2 separate regions of the Homo sapiens genome follow, and region 1 is linked to region 2. Evidence: fine-mapped expression QTL. A gene starts in region 2. The other region holds a variant in brackets. All regions are shown on one strand. Distances are from middle to middle.

Region 1 (9,631 bases), 450 kb after region 2:
TATTACAGATTGTAAATAAATAAAAATTAGATTTAAGATAATCACAGTTTACAATTATTTGCCCCATTTATGTACATAAGTAAATGGCATTTAACATAGTAGAACTGCCCAGACTATTCGCAAAGGAAGACACTTGAACATCCAGTGTTTATGAAGCAAACAGACTTACTCCCATACTGGGGGTACCCTGGGCTGAGTCCTAGGGATGGAGCCTGAGATGAATGTGAGATACTTGCTCATGAGGGACTCACAGTTTCTTCTTTCCCTACCTCCCTCCCCTTCACACTCACACTTAGATACCAGTGTCAGATTAATCTTATGGCCTGGTTAATCCTCCTTTGATATGACTTTTCACCTGCTATTCTTCTTTACTCAAAATCTGGTGGTAGCTTTTCTTTGCCTACAGAAATTATCTCAACTCTTGAACCTAACATTTAAGGTTTTATAATCTAATTCCAAACTCTTAAATAGATGCCCTCAAACATATCTTCTTTTTAATCCTAATTATTCTTGACTCTTAAATAAGGCAGTGACGTAATGGATATAGCCTTTAAGGATGATTGATATTAGGCTGGGTGTGGTGGCTCACACCTCTAATGCCAGCACTTTGGGAGGCCAAGGTGGGCAGATCTCTTGAGCACAGGAGTTTGAGACTAGCCTGGGCAACATGATGAAACCCCATTTCTACAAAAAATTAGCCAGGCATTGTAGTGTGTGCCTGTCACCCCAGCTACTCGGGAGGCTGAGGTGGGAGGATTGCTTGAGCCCAGGAGGCAAAGGTTGCAGTGAGCCAAGATATGCCACTTTATTCTTGCCTGGGTGACAGAGTGAAAAAAGGATGATTGATGTGACATCACTGTTTAAGATACAATAATAGAGGATTAAAAAGAGTGGAAGCAGGGATATTTTACTAGTGTGGGTGACAGTGGAAATGGGTGGAAAGTGCTTTTTAAGGTTCAGCAGAAACAATATAGATATTAAATGTGAGAAACTGGTATCAGAGGTCCCAATATTGTGCACTCAAGTCAGGTAGCAGCAAGTTGAGGGTTCAGAGTCCCTGTTGAACGTAAAGGACCGTGTGGTATATTGACCATGACAGCAGGTCATAATTTAAGTACCTCCTCTAATGCTTAGCAGTTCTTATCATGGTCTAAGGTAGAATTCAGCCAAAAAACAATCTTACAATTGTATAGACTTTTATTGTTTTTGAGATACTTTTACATATAGTGTCTCATCAAACCTCAGATTTCTCTGAGAGAGGTTTTATTATCTCTGTTTAATAACATACAACTAATACACAGACTAACAGGCTTGCCCAGGGTGTCACAGCTAGCAAATTGTGAGGCCATTGCTTGAACCCAAGTCTCCAGACTTCAAGTGTAATATCTATGGATATCAGACTTCTATTTATAGGATTCACTAGGAAGTCTTTACCTCTAGAAAAAGTATGGTAATGGGGGAAGCTTTAACTATTTTAGTTTCAACCTTCAGTTCTTCCACCCTGTCAACCCTCAATTTATCTGTGAATGGATTGCTTTCAGATGATGATTTTTTAATTTTTCTTTCAGCAGCCTCTTCAAAATCTCTTCTCCCACCTCAAACAAAACCTAATATGTAATTCTAAGAAAATGTAAAATAGATCAATGGTATTTATTATTACTGTCAACAATATAATGTCAGATAAAAAGTATCCAAAACTTTTGTTAAAAAAAATATTATGAAATGTTCAAATCTGTGCACAAAGATGGTAAGAAATTAGCCTGAGGTCTGTACAAGTAAGTTCCACAGTTAGCTCAAGTTAATGCATCAGAAGTCTTCATGCTGTTAAAATTTGGTGAATATTAATAACACTTGTGAATGTTTGACATTTTTAACCACAGCTTTAAAAATAGTTAACAAATAAAATATTTTTAAGAACTCTGAAGCATTTTTGTGTTATGTAATTGGAAAACCATGACAGGAAGATAGCTTTCCCTGCTTTCCAGACCAGAAACCTGTTGAACAACTGTCTAGCATTCCTGTTGGCACTGAGCTTTGGATCCATTAGGTGTATGATCCATTAATAGCTTAAAAATTGGTATTCTTTGATTTTGATGGAAAAGTGACCCCTGTGAATGTGATTTTTTTTTCCATGGAGTAGGAAGAAGGGGGAATTGAGTATTGAATATGAAATTTTGATGAATTATAAATGATGTTTTCTTTAGGCATATTGGACTTGAAGAAGTGATTGCATGCAAATTGCTAACTAAAAGTACTAAATATTAGGCTTATGCATATTTAATAATGTTGTGAGAAAGAAGTGTTGGAAAAAGCCCTAGTATATAAAATCATAGGATGTGTTAGAAGATTAAAGTTCTTTTTTTTTTTTAAAGACAGAGTCTCATTCTGTCGCCCAGGCTGGAGTGCAGTGGTGCAATCTCGGCTCACTGCAACCTCTGCCTCCTGGGTTCAAGTGATTCTCCTGTCTCAGCCTCCTGAGTAGCTGGGATTACAGGCACACACCACCACGCCTGGCTAATTTTTGTATTTTTAGTAGAGACGGGGTTACACCATGTTGGCCAGGCTGGTTTCGAACTCCTGACCTCAGGTGAGCCACCGCGCCTGGCCAGATTAAAGTTCTTGTAGCTCAAAAATTAATAGCACTAGATAGAGCAACCTTGAAGCTAGAGGAAGTACAGACAAGAAAAACAAAAATATGCTGAGTAGTATGATCCATACCTAAGGATAACTAAAATCTGTTGATAACTTTAAACCAGAGACATGAATACCTGGTTCCCATGCTGCTGTTCTTCCCTGCCTCATTCATCGGGCGTGTGGACTATCTATCTCTTAGGGCCTTCTTTCCTTCAAATCTTAGGCTCTAGAGTACTCAACGCTGCAGACTCCAGGTAGCATTCAAGATGAAACTTAATTGTGAGTCCTTGTGACCTAAATCCTCCTCCACCTAATAGTTTTAGTTCTTTCTCCATTAACCTCTATAGTTAGGAAATAACAAAGGGCATTTGGGAGAAATGGCTCTTGCATTAAAAAATGATTGAATACTAAAATACTAATTTCACTGTTATTTTAGAATAATCAATTCCAAGAATTTTGACACATAATAGCAGCAATCACTATAGAATAATATAATCATGAATTAGTTGCTTAGAACCTTCTATATAGGAGGACTTTTATGTTCCTTACATTGTTTCACTTTAATTCTTTAAGCACTCCTTTGAGATGTAGGCGTTAATAACTGTGTTTACCAGAAAAAAGAGAAAACTGAGGACAAGCAAGTTTCTTAAGGTCACACGGTCTGTTTGGTGGAACTGGAATTTAACTCAAAGCTTTTAACAGTACAGTAAATCATGTAGCCTCCCTGAAAATACAGGAGACTGAAAAATTTAGGAACATGCAAAAAGAGGGTACAAGTGTTGAGTTTATATACTATCAGGAAAAAAATAAGTGATATTCTAACTTTTCAATAGTTTTACAAGATAAATAACTAAGTTTAATTCTTTAGATTGAGGAAAAGAAACAAAGAGAGGAAGCAGAGCGAGAGAGACTGAGAATTGCAGAAGAAAAAGAAGAAAGACGGCTTGCAGAACAGAGGGCACGAATTCAGCAGGAGTATGAAGAGGAACAGGAAAAGAAAAGAGAGAAAGAGGAGGAGGTACATCTTTTTTCCCTATTGTATTTTACTACTTAGTCTGAAGGTGAAATCTTTGACTTGAAAAGGTATTTCTTACTTATAAAGGAGAACAGTGTTGGAGTACATTTAGAAAATATCAGATCAATATACATTCTTTGGATATTATTTTATTAAGGTGAAAGGGTAATTTAAGAAAGGAGATAAGTGATGACTTTAAAAATATAGATGTAGGCTGACTGAAGACTTTATAAAAGATGCCTAATATTTTATTTTTAAGCAGACAACTTATGTTAAAGAACACCATATCATGTCATCTATATCTTTATCTCATTTTATCAGATAAATAAGGCAGCACATTTTTGAATGTACTATAGAAGGAATATATGGAATGCATATTTCTCTTTTTATTTTAAAGCAAAGGCTAAAAAATGAAGAGCATATTCGGTTAGCTGAAGAAAGACAAAAAGAAGCAGAAAGAAAGAAGAAAGAAGAAGAAGAAAAATATAACCTGCAACTTCAGCACTACTGTGAAAGAGACAATTTGATTGGGGAAGAAACAAAGGTAAGTTTCAGACAAAAATGTCAATCAAACCCATAGTTTAACTCACTTTCACTGTGAGAGTTGTACAGTTGTTAGAAAAGGGGAGAAAGAGGAGGAGGTGCTTTTGTTCCTGTTCTGTCTTACTGTTTAGTCTGGGCACAATGTACTGAACTTTCTGTAGGAGGTACTGTCACTGTGCTTTGTTGGTATTTTCTGTCCATTGAAGGTAATGGATTTACTTACTTGAGCCATTCTTAGTCTCATTCCCATGGTGTATGCGGTGCCACCCAAGAATATGGTCTGCAGACAGTACAACATGAACTGTTTGTTATGGTTCATGACAAGACTAATACAGAAAGTGAGAGTGGTTTATATATATATATATATGTATTCTTTTTTTTTTTTTTTTTTTTTTTTTTTTTGAGACATAATCTCGCTCTGTTGCCCAGGCTCTGGAGTGCAGTGGCACAATTTTGGCTCACTGCACCTCCACTTCCTGGGTTCAAGCAGTTCTCCTGCCTCAGCCTCTCAAGTAGCTGGGACTACAGGCACACGCCATCATGCCCAGCTAATTTTTGTATTTTTAGCAGAGACGGGGTTTCACCATGTTGGCCAGACTGGTCTCAAACTCCTGACCTCAGATGATCCACCCACCTCTGCCTCCCAGAGTGCTGAGATTACAGGAGTGAGCCACCACGCCCGGCCTTCTCTCTCTTTCTTTCTTTCTTTCTTTCTTTTTCTTTCTTTCTTTCTTTCTTTCTTTCTTTCTTTCTTTCTTTCTTTCTTTCTTTCTTTCTTTCTTTCTTTCCTTTCCTTCCTTCCTTCCTTCCTTCCTTCCTTCTTTCTTTTCTTTTCTTTTCTTTTCTTTTCTTTTCTTTTCTTTTCTTTTCTTTTCTTTTCTTTTCTTTTCTTTTCTTTTTCTTTTTCTTTTTCTTTCTTTTTGTTTTAAGAGACCAGGTCTTGCTATGTTGCCCAGGCTGATCTCAAATTTTTGGGCTCAAGTTATCCTCCTGCCTCAGCCTCCCAAAGTGGTGGGATTGCAGGTGTGAGCCACCACACCCTGCCTCACAGATAATTTTTTATTGTAAAATTCATCATTTAAGAATTTAAGGTCGAGGCAGGCGGATCACTTGAGGCCAGGAGATCGAGACCAGCCTGGGCAACATGGTGAAACCCCGTCTCTATAACAAATACAAAAATTAGCTGGGCGTGGTGGCAGGCACCTGTAGTCCCAGCTACTCAGGAGGCTGAGGCAAGA[GA/G]ATCGCCTGAACTTGGGAGGCGGAGGTTGCAGTGAGCCGTGACTGCACTGTGGCACTCCAGCCTGGGTGACAGAGCGAGACTCCATCTCAAAAAAAAAAAAAAAAGAATTAAACAGAATTGTTAGTTTCCCATAATTATATTTCTTGTAATTTCTTATGTTTTTTAAAAATGCTATTTTTTAAGGAATATATACTTTTATGATATTATAATTTAATTGTAAAGTACCATAAAGTTTTAAATCAGCTTTATCCCATTTAATGCATTTGCCTTTCTGAAATTAACATTGCTATCATTTTCTTTCATTTATGTATGTCTGATATATATATATATTTTTGTCTATTCCTTCAGTTTTACCTTTGTGTCACCATATTTTTTATTTAGTTAGCTTCTATCTTTAGTTTGTTGAATTTTTAAAATCCTAATCTGAGTTATAATCTTTTTATTTTTATTTATTTATTTATTTATTTAGAAATAGAGACTCGCTTTGTTGCCCAGGCTGGAGTGCAGTGGTGCAATCTCGGCTCACTGCAACTTCCGCCTCCCAGGTTCAAGTGATTCTCCTGCCCTAGCCTCCCCAGTAGCTGGAATTACAGGTGCAAACTACCACACCTGGCTAATTTTTATTAGAGACGGGGTTTCACCATGTTGGCCAGGCTGGTCTTGAACTCCTGTCCTCAGGTGACCTGCCTGCTTGGCCTCCCAAAGTGCTGGGATTATAGACATGAGCCACTGCACCTGGCCTAATCTTTTAAAATAGGGATATCTAAATCCATTTATGTTTATCAAAACTAATGTCTTTGCATTAATTGCATTTCTGACTTTTTTGTGTTTTTCTTCCTTGATAGCTTTTTGGTCTTTTGTTATGTGTACTATGGCTTGTTTGCTCCATCCTCTACAGGGATTTAGAATGTCTATGTTGTATTTACAATGAAGTTTTTGGACTATAAGGTTTAATACACTATAAACTGAAATATAGAACCCCATCGTGATCTTGAAAAGTCCCTCATCCATGATGCTGTTAGTGATTAGATCTAGATTTTCGAGGTTGATTTGTATTGCTTTCCAGAAGGATTTTGTTATTTAATTTTTTTGTATTGTCATGGTACCTTTTTATTATTAAAGATGATTCTTTAGTTTTGTTATATTTTTTCTTTTTTGTTGCTTTACTTGTGTTTGTTGATTTTTTAAATCCTAATCTGACAGTCATACTGTTTTAATAAAGATGTCTAAATCCATTTATGTTTATCATAACCAACATGTTTGATCTTATGTAATTGAATTTCTGACTTTTGTAGAAAGCATTTTATTAAATAAAAGCAATAACAATCTAAACTTCTTAGATGACTTTCTTAACTATAAGGGGTGTGTGTGTGTGTATATATGTGTGTGAGTGTGATGAAGCAAATATGCTCTTAAATTTTTTAAATTTTTCAGCACATGAGACAGCCTTCTCCTATAGTTCCTGCTCTTCAGAACAAAATTGCAAGCAAACTCCAAAGACCTCCTTCAGTTGACAGCATCATACGTTCCTTTATTCATGTATGTACTTTTGTTTTTATTTGTTCATCCTAGCTCAGTTATTTTGGATTGGGGGATCGAATGAAATTTTCTTTTTCATTATATTTGGATAGGTTAAATTTTTTCAGATCTGAAATATAGGTGATATCTACAGTAATTTGCCTGCTGCTTCGATTGTAACTGATAGTGCTTGGTGCCCTAAAGTTTCTTTTGACAAACCATAATTTAGCCCCTCAAGCTAGGTAGCTGTAGATATGCTCATTGAGTCTGTTATACTTTAGATTGAACTACAAGGAAAAGAGAACATGGAAAATGTTCTAAGATTGATCCTCAAGGTGATGCTTGAAGAATATGCAGGAATTTGCCTTGAAGAGGAGGGTGAGGGATTATCAGCTTGTGGAAAGTCGTGGAGAGCAATGTAAGCTCATGGCACATGTGGAGAATCTTCCATGGTGTGGTCTGGCCTGATGATGCTTGTGCATTAAGGCAGCAGAGGAGGTGGAGGTCAGAACATGTGTGGCATGCTGTACGGAGTGCTAAGAGCTTTGATTTTGTTCCATAGGCTGGTAGATTCCAGACAGGCTAATTAGCAGAAGGTAAAGAAATGTGTCAGAAGAACATGTTTCTGAATTCCACCCTTTGAGATTCTGATTTAGTAGGTCTGTGGTAGATAATGCATAGGAATTCATTGTAATATTTAAGTAGGGGAATGACATGGCCACTTTTGTATAATGTTTTTTTAGGCAATGGTGTGGAGATAAGTTTTGGAGGTGGGGCAAGACTAAACATGGAGATAAGATGCTTTTGCACAAGTCCAGATGTGAGACTGAGGACCCAAACAAAGGCAGTGACACCAAGAACTGTGAAGGTGTGACAGCTTTATGATACATTTAAGAGACATAGTAGTACTATTTGTTGAGTGTGTGGTGGGTAGGAGTCTATGATAACTTTCAAGTTTTTGGTGAGGGTTACATAGAGTAGGCAGTTGAAAATATGAATTGTGGCAGCAGAATGAGTTCTGGACTCGATTTGTAGTTCTGGACGCCATCAACATATTGGTGCTTGTTAAATTAGTGCCATTGTCTACGATGAGTGTCTACAAGAGAAGTAAAGGAGGCTGAGAATAGAATACTGGGAAATTACCAACATTTGAGAAGCAGTGAAAGGAATGGACAGAGGGTGAGAGAGGATGGCAGTGACGGCAGTTGCGACTGGCCAAGTAAAATGCCCACTGAATGTGTCACTTGGGGGTCACTTGATGACTTTGGTGAAGGCAGTATTGTTGGAGTGATGGGTGTGAAAGCAAAGGCCATAGCTGTGTGTTGAGAAGTGAATGAGAGTAGGCAGTAGACCCAAAAGTACTGCATTTACTGTTCTTTAAGGAAGCTCAGCTGTGAAGGGAAGGACAGAATGGACAGGAGACAGTGAGCAATGAAGGATGAGGTAAAATTTTTTTTTAAGAAAGGGAGAGGTTTTTACACATAGGCTGAGAGGAAGGTGCTTGGAGAGAGGAAGTTGGAAAAAAGAATAATCGGAGGAGAATGGGAGTCAATTATCAGATACAGAGTACAGGTGAAGGGATTCTGTTTGGGTAGAGGCAAGGACACTTCCATCGTGATGAGAAGGAAGAATAGATTTACATGGTAGATACACTCTAGAATAGATATAAAAGGTGGATATACTCTACCTTGGGTAGAGTATAGCTGGGTAAGTTTTGGAGGTAGGATAGTGTGGAGTTTGGTTTCCTTTACATATAAATACTTCAAAAAATTACTCCCTTCAAGCTTCTGTGTAGGGAAGACATACTGAACATGTCTTTGTCATTATTGTTGAACAGGAAAGTTCCATGTCCAGGGCACAGTCACCCCCGGTACCTGCCAGGAAAAATCAGCTCCGTGCAGAAGGTAGAGTTAACTACTAAACCTGTTACCTAGAGTATTTCTCTTTTTAACTTTTCATTTTGAAATAATTATAAACTCATAGAAAATTGCAGAAACAGTATAGAGCGGTTAGGTGCTGTGTACCCATTCTCCAACTTTCCCCTGGGGTAACATCTTAGATAGTATAGTCTCATAGCCAGGAAGTGGACATTGATGTGGTCCACAGACCATCAGATTTTACCAGTTTTTACATGCATTTATGTATGTGTATTTCTGTGCATTTTTATCATGCACAGTTTGTGCGACTACCACTGCAATCAAGATACAGAACTGTTCCATCACCGTAAAGGAACTTCCTTGGGCCTCTCCTTTATAGTTGCACTCCCCCAAGAATATCGCTTCTGAAATTCCTATATTATAAAAAATGTACTTGTGGGTCCTAATGACGTTCACAATTATGATCCATGTATGTGTGTATATATAAAATGTTAAAATATCTTTCATAAAATTGTCTCTCTGAGCAGTTTCACTTTATTATTAGTCAGGTTGTGTTTTAATGTTTAGTCTTTTGTTCTTATTCCTGTCTTGTGTTTTACTTATCAATGGGAATTTGCAGAGGAGAAAAAAAATGTAATTATGGAATTATCAGAAATGAGAAAACAGCTTCGTAGTGAAGAGAGGCGTCTACAAGAGCGATTGCTACACATGGACAGTGATGATGAAATTCCTATCAGGCAAGTTTAGAATTGCAGTTTTTGTGTTCGCTTGAGTTCTTTTATCTTACTTCACCTATCCAGTAAT
Region 2 (15,212 bases):
AAAAAAAATCTTGATTTAACACTTTGTGATGCAGTCATTAGAAAGTCTAATTTTAAGTTTAGTTATTCTAATACTTCACTTTAATGGCTGTCACAGGTGAGAAGATATTTTGAAGAGATATTTCATAAAGATATTTAGATTTAAATGGAAGAGATGCATTGTTATTGGCTATATCTATTAAAGTACTCATTTTCTTTTTCAGTCCCATCATCCAGTTCTGTAAAGGTTTTTGTCGAAGTTTGACTAGTAAATTTCCATTCTCTCTGCTGTCAGTCAGTAATTCCTTCCTTCCTTCCTTCTTTCCTTCCTTCCTTCCCTCCTTCCTTCCTTCCCTCCTTCCCTCCCTCCCTCCCTCCTTCCCTCCCTCCTTCCTCTCTCAATCTGTCTCTTTCTTTCTCTTTAATAGAGACGGGGTCTCGCTGTGTTGCCCAGGCTGGTCTCAAACTCCTGCGCTCAAGTGATCCCCCACTACTCAGCCTCCCAAAGTGCTGGGATTACAGGCATGAGCCACTGTGCCCAGCCTCAGTCAGTAATTCTTGCAAACGAATTTAAAGACACTGCCTTTTATTTTTTCATCAAATAAATTTTAAGACCCACTGAAATGCATTAACTGGAAAATGTTTAAACAAGTAGAAAATTGTGTTTCAAAAATTCCAGTGCAATATATATATTAGATAGAGTTTTAATAGGACACGAACACACACACACACACAGTTTCCCATGCAACAAAGTCACATACTGATGGAAATATTTCCAAGACACTCTCTCCAAACTGTTTATTTCAAAACCCATCTACACTAAAGGGAGTGGGAAGGAAGGAAGTTAATCTCTCACTCATTGCTAAAACTTTACCTTAAAAGAAAATGTGCAGCCGAGCACGGTGGCTCACATCTGTAATCCCAGCACTTTGGGAGGCTGAGGCGGGCAGATCACCTGAGGTCAGGAGTTCGAGACCAGCCTGGCCAACATGGGGAAACACTATCTCTATTAAAAACACTAAATAAGCCAGGCAGGGTAGCGCATGCCTGTAATCTTAGCTACTTGGGAGGCTGAGGGCAGGAGAATCACTTGAACCCAGGAGGCAGAGGTTGCAGTGAGCCAAGATCACGCCATTGCACTCCAGCCTGGGCAACAGGAGCAAAACTCTGTCTCAAAAAAGAAAAAGAAAAAGAAAATATGTATGTTTAATATCCTCTACATAGAATACAACCCACAGGGATTATCACAGAAAAGGTAAAGAAATCTGAATCACTTGTATTTTTTGTCAGCGAAAATGCATAATTCTTCTTCATAGTCAAATACTCTTTTAAGTAATAACAACCAGAGCTTGTGTAAAGCTGATTTTGGTAGTAGATATTATACTAAGAGATTTTTATATACATATGTATCAACTCACTTCATCCCCAGAACAACTCAATGCAGTAGATACTATTATCTCCATTTCACAGATGAAGAAACTGAACCTCAGAGAGTTAAATGATCTTCCTGGGATTACATGGCTGGTGATGGGAGAACTGTGGTCAGAACCTAGGCAGTGTGTGTCCAGGATCTGTGCTTTTGACCTCGAGTATGTTGAATACTTTGCTAGAAAATAAAAAGTTTTCACAATCACTCCCCATCTCAGTATAAGGTATTATGTAGATTCTATTGAAGGGATTTAGTTTTACAAAATCGACCACATCAATGATGTCCTATACTACATACAACTTCAATAGACTGATTGTGGATGAACTAGGGCACCCAGTCAACCCTTTTAATTGTGAAAAGTCTGTCCTTCTCAGGTTACCTCACACAGCACACCTCTGACATGACTGACAAAGGACTGTATGAGCATGCCAGTGTCACATTTATGTTAAATAATAAAGCTTAATTTCTTTCTTTCTTTCTTTTTAGACAGGGTTTCACTCTGTCACCCAGGCTGGAGTGCAATGGTGCGATCTTGGCCCACTGCAACCTCCGTTTCCCAGACTCAAGCTATCTTCCCACCTCAGCATTCCGAGTAGCTGGGATTACAGATGCACACCACCATGCCCAGCTAAGTTTTATATTTTTGTAGAGACGGTGTATCATCATGTTGCCCAAGTTGGTCTTGAACTCCTGAGCTCAAGTGATCCACCCGCCTTAGCCTCCCAAAGTGCTGGGATTTCAGGCATGAGCCAACCTGGTCTGTTTCTTACTTTTTAGAGAAAACAAATGGATGTTGTAATATTTTCTTTCTGTTCTTTCTGAACTTGTAGTAGATTGCCTTGAGGACCCTTTGGATGTCCAGTCTCCACTTTCAATACCATTCGCCTTAGCAAATATGAAGAAATTTAAAATTATCCAGGAGAAATACAGTTTCAGTAAAACAAATGCAGAGGAATTACATAGGATAATCAAAACAACTTCTTAAATATAATTTGAGAAATAAAAGGAGGCTGAGTTTAGATTTTAAAATCTGATAATAATGAAATGTGATTTTTTTGAAGTGTAATTTTAAACGTAAGATTAATACAAGGCTGCATTATAAGAGTGTCGGCCGGGCGCGGTGGCTCACGCCTGTAATCCCAGCACTTTGGGAGGCCGAGGCGGGTGGATCATGAGGTCAGGAGATCGAGACCATCCTGGCTAACAAGGTGAAACCCCGTCTCTACTAAAAATACAAAAAATTAGCCGGGCGCGGTGGCGGGCGCCTGTAGTCCCAGCTACTCGGGAGGCTGAGGCAGGAGAATGGCGTGAATCCGGGAAGCGGAGCTTGCAGTGAGCCGAGATTGCGCCACTGCAGTCCGCAGTCCGGCCTGGGCGACAGAGCGAGACTCCGTCTCAAAAAAAAAAAAAAAAAAAAAAGAGTGTCAACTGGCCAGGTGCGGTGGCTCACGTCTGTACCCCCAGCATTTTGGGAGGCCAAGGTAGGCGGATCACCTGAGGTCAGGAGTTTGAGGCCAGCCTGGCCACCATAGTGAAACCCTGCGTCTATTAAAAATACAAAAATTAGCTGGATATGGTGGCAGGTGCCTGTATTCCCAGCTACTTGCGAGGCTGAGGCAGGAGAATTGCTTGAACCCAGGAGGTGGAGGTTGAAGTGAGCTGAGATCGCACCACTGCACTCCATGATACTAAGGACTCACTTGATCCTTTATAGAGTTCCATGTCTCATACTGGGCATCTCCTCTAAAATCTAAAGAAAACATGGAGAATTTGGGAAAAACTCCTATGAGAGTCATAAAATATTTTTTAAAATGACAGAAAAAGTTAAAAGAGCTGGGGTTGTTTATCTTAGAAAACTCAGGGGAATTTAAGAGTCTTCTTGCGTATGAAGAGTTATAATTCCTTAAGGTCTACTTAAGTCTTTGACACATCTGGCTGGGCCAGACACAGATTCCTTAGAGAATTTGTTAAGGAAATAACAGCAATGCACCTCTTTATGCCAGAAGCTATTAAGCCCTTGCATTTGAAATAGGTTCAATCATTAATTGCACATAATAGAAGTAAATAACTGAGTCACCAAATGAACAGTGTTTAAGAAAAGCTATTATTCCCCACTGATAAGCAACTAAAATAATAGTTATCTTCAAAGTCCACCTAGCAGGTTTAGTCCACCTACCCTAATATGATCCCCTGGACGTAGAAACTGCTGACACGACTTATGTAAATAAATTATTGTCAACTATTAACAGACTTTTATTTTATGTACATAATAGACTAAATGAGATACAGAAAAAAAGAGAAAAATGAATGATTTATATTTTATTCTTGACATTCATAAAAACAAGATTGGAAGACAATGAGATTTCCCTAATAGGAAAGTATAATAATATTATTTTAGATAATTAATGGTCTTAGGGAAATTTAAAATAATTTCTAGCTACTTTTTATCAAAAAGCTGATGCTAGCAGTTTAAGTGTTCTGATCTCCTAACACTTCCCCTTGATTTTTCTCATGAGTCTAATACAGAAAATGAGAAAGTCCTGTGATCTGAAAAGCCTTATATTTGATCCTAATGTAGTCTTGTTTTAAAATAGAGTTTCCTACCTGTTATGAAACATACTTGAACTTCAAGCATTTCAGTTTTGAGTTTGAATTGGCTAATTTGGCCCAAGAAATGACGTTCAGCTTTGGGCCTCCCACCTATACCCTACCCCACAAAATGAACACATGCTGAACCCTTTTCAAATCATAGAAACAAGTTAATTCTGCTCTGTGCTAAAGAGGCGTTAATTGCTCTCAATTTCAGTTCCCATGTGTATCTGAGGGTTTTTTTTTTTTTTTTTGAGAAGGAGTCTCACTCTGTCACCCAGGCTGGAGTGCAGTGGCGCGATCTCAGCTCACTGCAAGCTCCACCTCCCGAGTTCACACCATTCTCCTGGCTCAGCCTCCCAAGTACCTGGGACTACAGGCGCCTGCCACCACGCCCGGCTAATTTTTGTATTTTTAGTAAAGACGGGGTTTCACTGTGTTAGCCAGGATGGTCTTGATCTCCTGACCTCGTGATCCGCCCGCCTCGGCCTCCCAAAGTGCTGGGATTACAGGCATGAGCCACCGTGCCTGGCTAATTTTTGTATTTTTAGTAGAGACGGGGTTTCACTGTGTTGGCCAGGATGGTCTTGATCTCCTGACCTCGTGATCTGCCCGCCTCAGCCTCCCAAAGTGCTGGGATTACAGGCGTGAGCCACCGCGCCCGGCCCTTTTTTTTTTTTTTTTTTTTTTTTTTTTGAGACAGAGGCTTGCTCTGTCCCCCAAGTTGGAGTGCAGTGGCGCAATCTTGACTCACTGCAACCGCCCCCTCCCGGGTTCAAGTGATTCTCTTGCCTTAGCCTCCCAAGTAGCTGGGATTACAGGTGCACCATCACGCTCAGCTAATTTTTGTATTTTTAGTAGAGACAGGGTTTCACTATGTTGGCCAGGCTGGTCTCGAACTCCTGACCTCAAGTGATCCTCTCGCCTTGGCCTCCCAAAGTGCTGGGATTACAGGTATGAGCCACTGCACCTGGCCAACTGAGGGGTTTTTTTGTTTTTGTTTTTCAGACGGAGTTTTGCTCTTGTTGCCCAGGCTGGAGTGCAATGGCTCAATCTCAGCTCACTGCAACCTCCGCCTCCCGGGTTCAAGCGATTTTCCTGTCTCAGCCTCCCAAGTAGCTGGGATTACAGGCACATGCCACCATGCCGACTAATTTTTGTACTTTTTTTTTTTTTTTTTGAGACGGAGTCTTGCTTTGTCTCCCAGGCTGGGGTGCAGTGGCGCAATCTCGGCTCACTGCAAGCTCCACCTCCCGGGTTCACGCCATTCTCCTGCCTCAGCCTCCCGAGTAGCTGGGACTACAGGCGCCTGCCACGGCGCCCGACTAATTTTTTTGTATTTTTTAGTAGAGACGGGGTTTCACCGTGGTCTCGATCTCCTGACCTTGTGATCCACCTGCCTTGGCCTCCCAAAGTGCTGGGATTAGAGGCGTGAGCCACCACGCCCAGCCTAATTTTTGTATTTTTAGTAGAGACGGGGTTTCATCATATTGGTCAGGCTGGTCTCAAACTCCTGACCTCAGGTGATCCGCCTGCCATGACCTCCCAAAGTGCTGGGATTACAGGTGTAAGCCAGCGTGCTCGGCCACTGAGGGTTTTTTTGGTTGTTTTTTTTTGTTTTGTTTTTTGTTTTGAGATGGAGTCTCGCTCTGTTGCCCAGGCTGGAGTGCAGTGGCACGATCTTGGCTTACTGCAAGCTCCACCTCCCAGGTTCACGCCATTCTCCTGCCTCAGCCTCAAGAGTAGCTGGAACTACAGGTGCCCGCCACCACACCCGGCTAATTTTTTTGTATTTTTAGTAGAGACGGGGTTTCACCATGTTAGCCAGGATGGTCTCAATCTCCTGACCTCGTGATCCGCCCACCTAGGCCTCCCACAGTGCTGGGATTAAGGCGTGAGCCACCGTGCCCGGCCAGTTGTTTTTAAACAGAGGGTCTCCCTCTGTTGCCCATGCTGGACTGCAGTGGGGCAATCATAGCTCACTACAGGCTTGACCTCCTAAGCTTAAGTGATCCTCCCACCTCAGCCTCCCAAGTAGTTGGGACTACAGGTGTGCACCACCATACTCAGCTAATTTTTTTTTATAGAGACAAGGGGAGGGGTCTCACTTTGGTACCCAGGATGGTCTCAAACTCCTAGGATTAATGGATCCTCCCATGTCGGCCTCCCAAACTGCTGGGATTATAGGCGTAAGCCACCACTACTGGCCTGAGTTTTTCTAACTGTATCTTGGGTTGCTTTATGTTTTATTAAATTGTTTTGCTCAGAAAATTTAATAAATTAGTCAGCTGGGCATGGTGGCACACACCAGTAATCCCAGCACTTTGGGAGGCAAAGGTAGGAGGATGACTTGAGGCCAGCGGTTTGAGACCAGCCTGGGCAACATAGGGAGACCCTGTCTCTACAAAAATAAAAAATTAGCCAGGCGTGTTGGTGTGCACCTGTGGTGCTACTTGGGAGGCTGAGGTGGGAGGAGTGCTTGAGCCTTGGAGGTTGAGGCTGCAGTGAGCCATGGTTGTGTCACTGCACTCCAACCTGCGCAACAGAGTGAGACCCTGTCTCTAAAAAAAAAAGTGAGACCCAGTCAAAAAAAAAAAAAAAAAAGAGAGAGAGAGAGAGAAATTTAAAAAAAAAAAAAAGAAAATTTAGGCCAGGCTCGGTGGCTCACACCTGTAATCTCAACACTTCAGGAAGCTGAGGTGGGCGGATGAGTTGAGGTCAGGAGTTCAAGATCAGCCTGGCCAATATGGTGAAATCCTGTCTCCACTAAAAATACAAAAATTAGCCAGGTGTGGTGGTGTGTGCTTGTAGTCCCAGCTACCTGGGAGGCTGAGGCAGGAGAATTGCTTGAATCCAGGAGATGGAGGCTGCAGTGAGCCGAGATCACACCACTGCACTCCAGCCTGGGTGACACAGCAAAATTCCATCTCAAAAAAAAAAAAAAAAGAAAATTTAATAAATTAGTCACTTTTGTTTCCCCATATTTTTACCCATTTTTACAGCAAGGTTTTCCTTTTAATTATTACAATCTGAGCCAATTCATAGTTAGGATTATGTTTTTAACTATCTTCTCCACAAAAATGGTTTTCTTTTATTTGATACTGTGGGATGTTGTGATTAGAATGTCAGCTGATAAACATAGCTAGAAACTATAGCAACAACTTATGGTGTCTGACCCACTTAAGCATGTGAGTCTTCAGCAGAATGAGGGAAAAGATACCCTAAAAGCAATGCAAATAATATGAATCAAAACCATCCTTTGCGAGGCTGGGCGAGGTGGCTCACACCTGTAATCCTAGCATTTTTCAAGGCCGAGATAGGAAGATCACTTGATGCCAGGAGTTCAAGACCAGCCTGGGCAATATAGTGGGACCCTGACTCCAAAAAATTTTAAAAATTTGTTGAGGTGGTGGCGCAAGCCTGTAGTTCCAACAACTCAGGAGGTGGGAGGATGGCTTGAAAGCAGGGAGTCGAGGCTGCAGTGAGCCGAGCTCACGCCACTGCACTCCAGCCTGGTGGGTGACAGAATGAAATCCTGTCTCAAAAAACAAAACAAACCAAAAAAAGTATTTTGCTTTTGTAAGCATATAGTTGGTAGGATTATTCTTACCTCTCTAGACTTAATATTTTATCTGCTATAAAACAAGTATTCCTTTTTTTTTTTTTTTTTTTTGCTGGAGTTTCGCTTTGTTGCCCAGGCTGGAGTGCAGTGGTGAGATCTCGGCTCACTGCAACCTCCGCCTCCCGGGTTCAAGCGATTCTCCTGCCTCAGCCTCCTGAGTAGCTGGGGTTACAGGCACCCACCACCACATCTGGCTAATTTTGTATTTTAGTAGCTACAAGATTTCACCATGTTGGCAGGGCTGGTCTTGAACTCCTGACCTCAGGTGATCTGCCTGCCTCAGCCTCCCAAAGTGCTGGGATTACAGGCATGAGCCACGGTGCCTGGCAAAAAACAAGCATTCTAATGAATACCAGCCCTCACTAATGGAAGTGGTATTTCTTGTATTTTTATGCCCCTCACTTCTTCCAAGGTTCTGATAAAAGAACTACAAATAATAGAGGGCTTTATTATGATATAAAAAAGTAATAATGCTTCCACATAAGGCACCATTTTAGAGAAAAGGTTTCCCATTTTGAATAGTGGAGGATGAAAACCAAGCATTCATTTCATTGGAATATATGATCTAAAATAATCGTAATAACCACATTATGTGGCTGGGTAGTTGGGGTTTTTTTGTTTGTTTTTTGAGACGGAATCTCACACTGTCGCCCGGGGCTGGAGTGCAATGGCGTGATCTCAGCTCACTGCTACCTCCACCTCCCAGGTTCAAGTGATTCTCCTGCCTCAGCCTCCCAAGTAGCTGGGATTACAGGTGCCCACCACCACACCTGGCTAATTTTTTGTATTTTTAGTAGACACGGGGTTTCATTATGTTGGCCAGGCTGATCTCAAACTCCTGACCTCGTGATCCATCCGGCTTGACCTCCCAAAGTGCTGGGATTACAGGCGTGAGCCACCGCCAAAATTTCTAAAATCTGGCCATTTTAATACTATTACAAATAAAACATATATAATATTGGCATTTTAATATATGTTTTAGAGCTAATAATGATGAAGATAGCAGTCACTTGGTATTATGTTCCAGGCATTCTACTAAATTCATTTGATCCTCATAGCAATTTCATGAGATTAGCACTATTATCTCCGTTTTACTGAAGAGGAAAAAGCACTATTATCCCCAGGTTACTGATGAAACCGGTGCTCAGAGAAGTGAAACAATTTGCCCAAAGTAGGAAGTGGCAAACCAGGAGTTAAACCTGGGTCTGTCCAATTCCAAAGCTTGTGTTCAAAATCTCTACACTATAGATAAAACAGATGAACAAAATATTTGCTCTATCTGAATGAACAGAATCATATTTTCAAAGAAAGTATTGGGACCCATAGTCTGATAAAAAGCTCTATTTTTAAAATTTATTTACATGAAATATTTCATAAAGGTATAAACATCAGCTAGACATTTAGCTGAACATTCAACAACTTTTTTTTTTACAGTCTAAACTTGGAAACATAACAGAAAATGGGGATATAACCTATATCTCTATCAATAGGTGAACACAATTAATCAAAGTGATCAGCCTTAGCCAGGTGCGGTGGCTGAAGCCTGTAATCCCAGCACTTTGGGAGGCTGAAGCAGGTGGATCATTTGAGGTCAGGAGTTCAAGACCAGCCTGGCCAACATGGTGAAACCCTGTCTCTACTAAAAATACAAAAATTAGCCGGGCGTGGTGGCGCACACTTGTAATCCCAGCTACTGGGGAGGCTGAGGCAGGAGAATTGCTTGAGCCTGGGAGGCAGAGGTTGCGGTCAGCCGAGATCACGCCACTGCACTCCAGTCTGGGTGACAGAGTGAGACCCTGTCTCAAAAAAAAAAAAAAAAACCAAAACAACAACAACAACAACAACAAAGTGATCAGCCTTAAAATTTGCCCTTAAAACCAATTTTAGACTGGGCATGGTGGCTCACGCCTGTAATCCCAGCACTTTGGGAGGCCAAGGCGGGTGGCTCACCTGAGGTCAGGCGTTCAAGACCATCCTGGCCAACATGGCGAAAATCTGTCTCTACTAAAGATACAAAACATTAGCTGGGCGTGGTGGCAGGCACCTGTAATCACAGCTACTCGGGAGGCTGACGCAGGAGAATCGCTTGAAACCGGAAGTTGGAGGAGGTTGGAATGACCTGAGATTGTGCCATTGCACTCCAGCCTGGGCAACAAAAGTGAGACTCCATCTCAAAAAAAAAAAAAAAAAAAAAAACTAATTTAATTACAGTGAAAAAGTCCTTAGTAGTTTGTGAATATATTTACCTCCTCTAGCTTTTTGCAAAATCTAGCTATTAAATTGCAGCTCTCAGATTGTAAAGGCAAAATGCCTAACATGTTGTCTGTTGATCAAATGAACCCAGCCTGGGCAACACAGTGAGACCGTCTCGTCTCAAAAAAAAAAAGAAAATACATAAAATGTTTGTGGGAGGTGATCTCTGTGTGTGTGTGTGTGTGTGTGTGTGTGTGTGTGTGTGTGTGTGTTCTTCACAATAGGACAAATTTATCTAGAAATGTAATGGTTCCCAGATGTTTATTTTTTTAAAAAGTCAAGATGTGGTGATAGCCAGGTATTTGTCTCTAAAGTGAGAATGATGTTATTCCACTTGGAGTTTATTGACACAGAACTTCCTTTTGTCTGAGAAATCTTCAGCACTGTGAATATGGCTTTAATTAAGAGATACACTCATCACTTGTTGATTTTGTTACAAGGGAAGAACTCCTCTAATGTATGTGGATTGCTTTGTGGACCACAGTAAAACATATAAAGGACCACCGGCAATGTATTGTTTTGTATCTACTGCATTCTTATATTCATTTCTGAAAACTACTGTTTAGAAAGTTCTGTAGGATTACTGAAGTACAAAAAGTATTTGGATTCACAATCCACTTTTTAAAGAGAGGCCACATTGTGGTTATTGACATTAAAAATGAATGTCCTAACCCATACTTGTGGGGCTAAATCTTTGAATATCATTTTAAAACATGAGGAAATGTCTTCTGAATTTAGGGAAGTCACACATAGATCCCAGTTCCTCTAATAACCTTTGGCAGTTTATTTGTTCATAGATTTGTGGCAAATTCTCTGGAATCATATGATCTAAAGTACAAATCATTGTCTCAAAATCTAAGGCATGATATGCACATGGGAATCTTTAAGTACTTGTCTGAGTCTATCTTCAAGTGATATCTGATAAGACCTAAATTACAGTAGTGTTGTGGGACGAAGAAAACAACCCACTCTACTTCAAAATCTTAACCACTTGACTCCACATCCATTGAACCATGTAATTCTTAGTTCTCCACTCAGCTTCTCTATCTGTTAAAAGAGATAAACAGATCTAAAACGCAGCTTCTGTAATTCAAGAATGAGTAATAAGGAGCTGTAAAGTGTGCACTCAGCTGACTTGGAGATTAATGGGAATAAAAAAAAGAGTCAGTAGATCTAAAAAGATGTGTGGAAAGGAAATTTCTCTGCACACAGGATCTGCCAATTTGTGAAAGTTCTCGACTGTTTATAAACACAAGGGCCGTAACTCTGCTAATGACAAAAGTGGAAAACTGTCCAAATAATGCTAAATGAATCACAGTTGTTCTCAATTATTTGGATATTTAATTCACTCCTCTGAGTTTCCAGTTTACACCAAGCCAACCCCCCCAACACCACGGGCCCACCCGGGGGGTCCTGATCCCTGCACACACCAGGTCATCTCTGTTGGGCCCCGGCGCTCTGGCCCGCGCCGGTCTTGGGCCCCAGGGTAGCGGCCACTGCGGGCGGAGCAGAGGGAAACACCAGAGTCTGTGACTCCAGACAGGACCCACTGTGTCCTCTTGAACTTTGCACAGCGCGTGACGGGGGCAGACGGTGCACCGTGGCCCGGCCTTTCGCGGGGGTCCTCGGGGAAGAGAGAGGAGCGCGGGTTTCCTCGGAGGCCTGAGCGGGACGCAGCCTGCAGCCCCTCCCCGCACGGGCTGCCCCCGGCCCGCCGCTCGCGCCGCTCTGCTGGGATCCGGCGCCTTCCCCGGCTGTCCTCGGCCTCCCGCGCGCTCCGCGGGAGGAGCCGCCAGCGGCCGTGACGCGTCAAGGAGGAAACGCCGGCGCCCGGCGGCCCTGCCGGGAAGGAGGAAGCGCAGTGCGTTCGGCTCCGCGCCCGCCGCGCCGGGAGCAGCACCGCGGGGCCAGGTAGGTGCGGGGCCGGCGGGAGGGTCCGCGCGCCCGGGACTCCGACGGCGGCCCGGGGCGGGAGGAGACGGGGCGGGGCGAGGGCTGCCCGGGCCTCGGCCGCTGCCTGTCCTCGGAAAAAGCCGTACCTCCGCCCAGCCCCCGGCTCCCGGAGAGTTTGTGGTCTTTGTTTCCACGAGGTGAATTCAGATCCTGCCTCGAGATTCCTAAACGCCCAAGGGGCGTCGGTGGCTGGACCTTGTTAACCCCCACGCAGCCGCCGAGCCTGGAGGAACTGGGAACGCCGAGCAGGGAGACCCTATCTGAGGTCGAAAGTGGGTGCAGGTCACCTGCGAGGGTCGGGGAGGGGGCAGCCGCCAGAGTGGGGTGGATGGAATCGTTTAACCTGTTGTCAGCGGATCTGTAGTAAAAGACCTTAATACGTTGCGTCTTTTAAGTTCTCTGTAATTTGAACCCTTACGTCTCTTCAAGTGAATCTGGCCCTATTAATTCTCACAGTTTTAGCTTTGGAATGTACCCACAAGAAGTGCTTTGAGATTTTTAGATTCTGTCATTTTTAGTCATCGTTACTTGGAAAGAGAAAAGAGAAAGGAATCATCTCTTGAAACTTAAAACGCTTTCATTGAGTTGTGCACAGTGACTTCTGAACCATGAGTAGAATTTCAGTCCTGCACCAGAGACTACTTAGTGTGCACTTGGGTGCAAAATAAATACAGAGCACTGTAATTTCTAAATCTTTTGTCAAAGTGAAAAATAGACTGTTGTGTATTTTGATTCTCTCCCTTCTCACCAGATTGAGACTTCACCCAGCCAATCTGGGAGGTGCCTTTTTTTATTTACCAAACACTTACATAGCCCTTACTATGCGCTGGGCTCTTTCTAAGTTCTTTATAAATATTAAATCAAATTCTTAACTTATCATATTATAGCGGTTCTAGCAATGAAGAGGCTATCCATACTTTAGTTCCCCAAATGTCATTGGAAGAGCTGTAAACATTAGAGGAAGTTTTAGGCATGTTTTAGCACCGGGTGTGCCTTCTGGTCCCCTTGGCTACCACTTCTGTAAGACAAGCCACCACCCCAGCATTTCCCTGGGGTAAGGGAGCCTGGAGCTCCTGGGAATGCGACCTGTTCAAAGCAGATGTTGGCCAGAACCTGAATGACTTGTGTAACATGGTCTCTTTCAACTGCCGTTGTGCCCATCGGCTAACTCTGGAGACACCAGAACTTCCCCTTCTTTAACTGCCACTGCATGGAGCCTACTTTTGTTTTTGAAAAGAGCTTTGTTCCTGATCTGTTCGACACTGTTTATATGACATTATTTATATGACATAGTTTAGATATGAGGGTCAGATTGAACTTGAAATGTACTATAAAATAGAACATTTTTGTTTGCACACATCAACATAACAAATAACGTTTTGTAATTTTACTGCTATTTGCTCTTGGAAACATTGAATTGGTAGGTCAGCCTCATAGGTGTACCTTTTGTGATTTGCAGATATGCAGAGAATATTTTTTCAGAATAACATGCCCTCTTCAAATGTGCACCATTAGAGACCCAATGTGGTGACTAAGATAGACATGATTCTTGTTATTGTGACTATGAATGTAATGTCAAAATCTGCACATCAGACTAGCTTTCTGACTCCCTCACTCCCTTTCTGTGCCCCCCTCCCTTATCTCTCTCTCATATATTTAACTTTTCAGAGAGATGATTAAGTGAGCCGATAAGCCTTATTTAATAGGATTATGAAGTGTCTCTTGAAGCAAGAAGGCTCATGTTCCTCTGATATATTAATAATTTATGACACAACAGGCATTAGTGTCATTTGTGAATTCAGTTTAGTCGGATGACCCCTAGCATTTTCATGGCTTACAAAGTGCTTCCAGACATACTCCTTTACCTTTCAGAGAGATCTTGTATGGTTGATCTCTTAATTACTTTTTATTACCTGTTTTTACAGATGAAGAAACTGAGGCATGGAAATGTTAAAGTGCTTTAGCCTGGATTGCACAGCAGGTGAGAGGCAGAGCTTGAATGGAGGGCAGGTGTGTGGACAGTGCCTGGCACGTGCAGGCCTGTAATAAACATCTGTGGAATGAATGACTCCAAATGGCTTCAGATATCTTGCTCTTTCAAAACATGTCTCTCAAAATACCGTAGTAATTGATTTATGCCTGAGAGATTTCCAGGCCTAATCCAATGCCTCTCTCATTTCAGACAGTATCTAATACAGCACATTTTCTACAAAAAGGATGGGAATCCCTTTGGACTTATTTCTTAAGATTTGCCACCTCTGGTTTTTGAAAAAGAAAATAGGTTGGGTATTTTTTTCATCCTACCTTTTTTCTCTAGTTTTGAGAGTTTAGAACGGACACATGGTATTTATGTTTATGTTGACAGCTTGCTTTCTTTCTTTCTTTCTTTGTTTTTTTTTTGAGACAGAGTCTTGCTCTGTTGCCCAGGCTGGAGTGCAATGGCGCAGCCTAGGCTCACTGCAACCTCCGCCTCCCGGGTTCAAGCGATTCTCCTGCCTCAGCCTCCCGAGTAGCTGGGGCTACAGGTGCATGCCCCCATACCTGGCTAATTTTTGTGTTTTTAGTAGAGACAGGGTTTCACCATGTTGGCCAGGCTATTATCAAACCCCTGACATGATCAGCCTGCCTTGGCCTCCCAAAGTGTTGGGATTACAGGCGTGAGCCACCGTGCCTGGCCACAGCTTTCTTATCTTTCTAAACTACTTAGATTTATGATCAAGTTCAAACTCAATGATCATAGGTATTGTAAATATTTTTGAAATAAAACTATGTGTTTTATTGAAATGTTGCAATGAATTTAGCATAAAGGGTCTTTAAAAACACACACAAAATTCCTCAACTATTTATATGCTTTAAGTATAGCCCTTGGTACCTAAAGTATGTGATTTCCAGGTGGATAACCTTCAATTAGAGGGGATAATATGGCCATTACCTGGCAGGAGGAATTGAGAAGAGTTATCAGGGAGATATGAGAGATGGGATGGCCTTTCCCATGAGGTGTATTAGGCAGTAAGAAACCCTTAATGAAGCCAGACTGAGTCATCTGCCTGTCAACGTTCTTCTGTGTGGGAGTGGAATAAAATACCTTTGAAACCTGTCTTGTTTCAGAAACCACTTTACCTTTTCCAGTTCTCATGTTTTCTCTTTTTGAAAAAAATTAATGTAAATTACTGACTAAACTGCTGATTCATGAAACTCAACTTATGTAACATGTTATTCCTGACAGATGTAACAGCTCCCATATTATTTTAAGCGACTCAGTGTCTCTGTTTTCCTTTACCTTTTCCATTTCTCATGGTGGAGACTTTGCTCTCATTTCACTCTCCCCTGCCCAGTATCATGGAGAAAAGTGGTAAATCTAAGAGGTGCTACTTCCGCATCTTGTAGT

The links. PIP is the estimated chance that this variant, and not a neighbour inherited with it, causes the effect.
Region 1: its variant is fine-mapped to the expression of SGK3 in whole blood (INTERVAL, PIP 0.93).

The regions. Positions count from the first base shown.
Region 1 is chr8:67,154,945-67,164,575 of GRCh38, forward strand. It overlaps CSPP1 (centrosome and spindle pole associated protein 1), which reads left to right. Exons shown (of 31, transcript NM_001382391.1): 20 at 3,503-3,652; 21 at 4,047-4,193; 22 at 6,867-6,971; 23 at 8,788-8,854; 24 at 9,447-9,564. Among named protein-coding and RNA genes, the nearest start is that of CSPP1, 95 kb to the left of the region's middle. The variant GA/G (reference allele first, on the strand shown) is at 5,431.
Region 2 is chr8:66,701,052-66,716,263 of GRCh38, forward strand. SGK3 (serum/glucocorticoid regulated kinase family member 3) reads left to right here and starts at 11,730. Exons shown (of 17, transcript NM_001033578.3): 1 at 11,730-11,782. The region is part of intron 3 of C8orf44-SGK3 (C8orf44-SGK3 readthrough); the gene reads left to right. RefSeq lists a silencer at 11,439-11,908.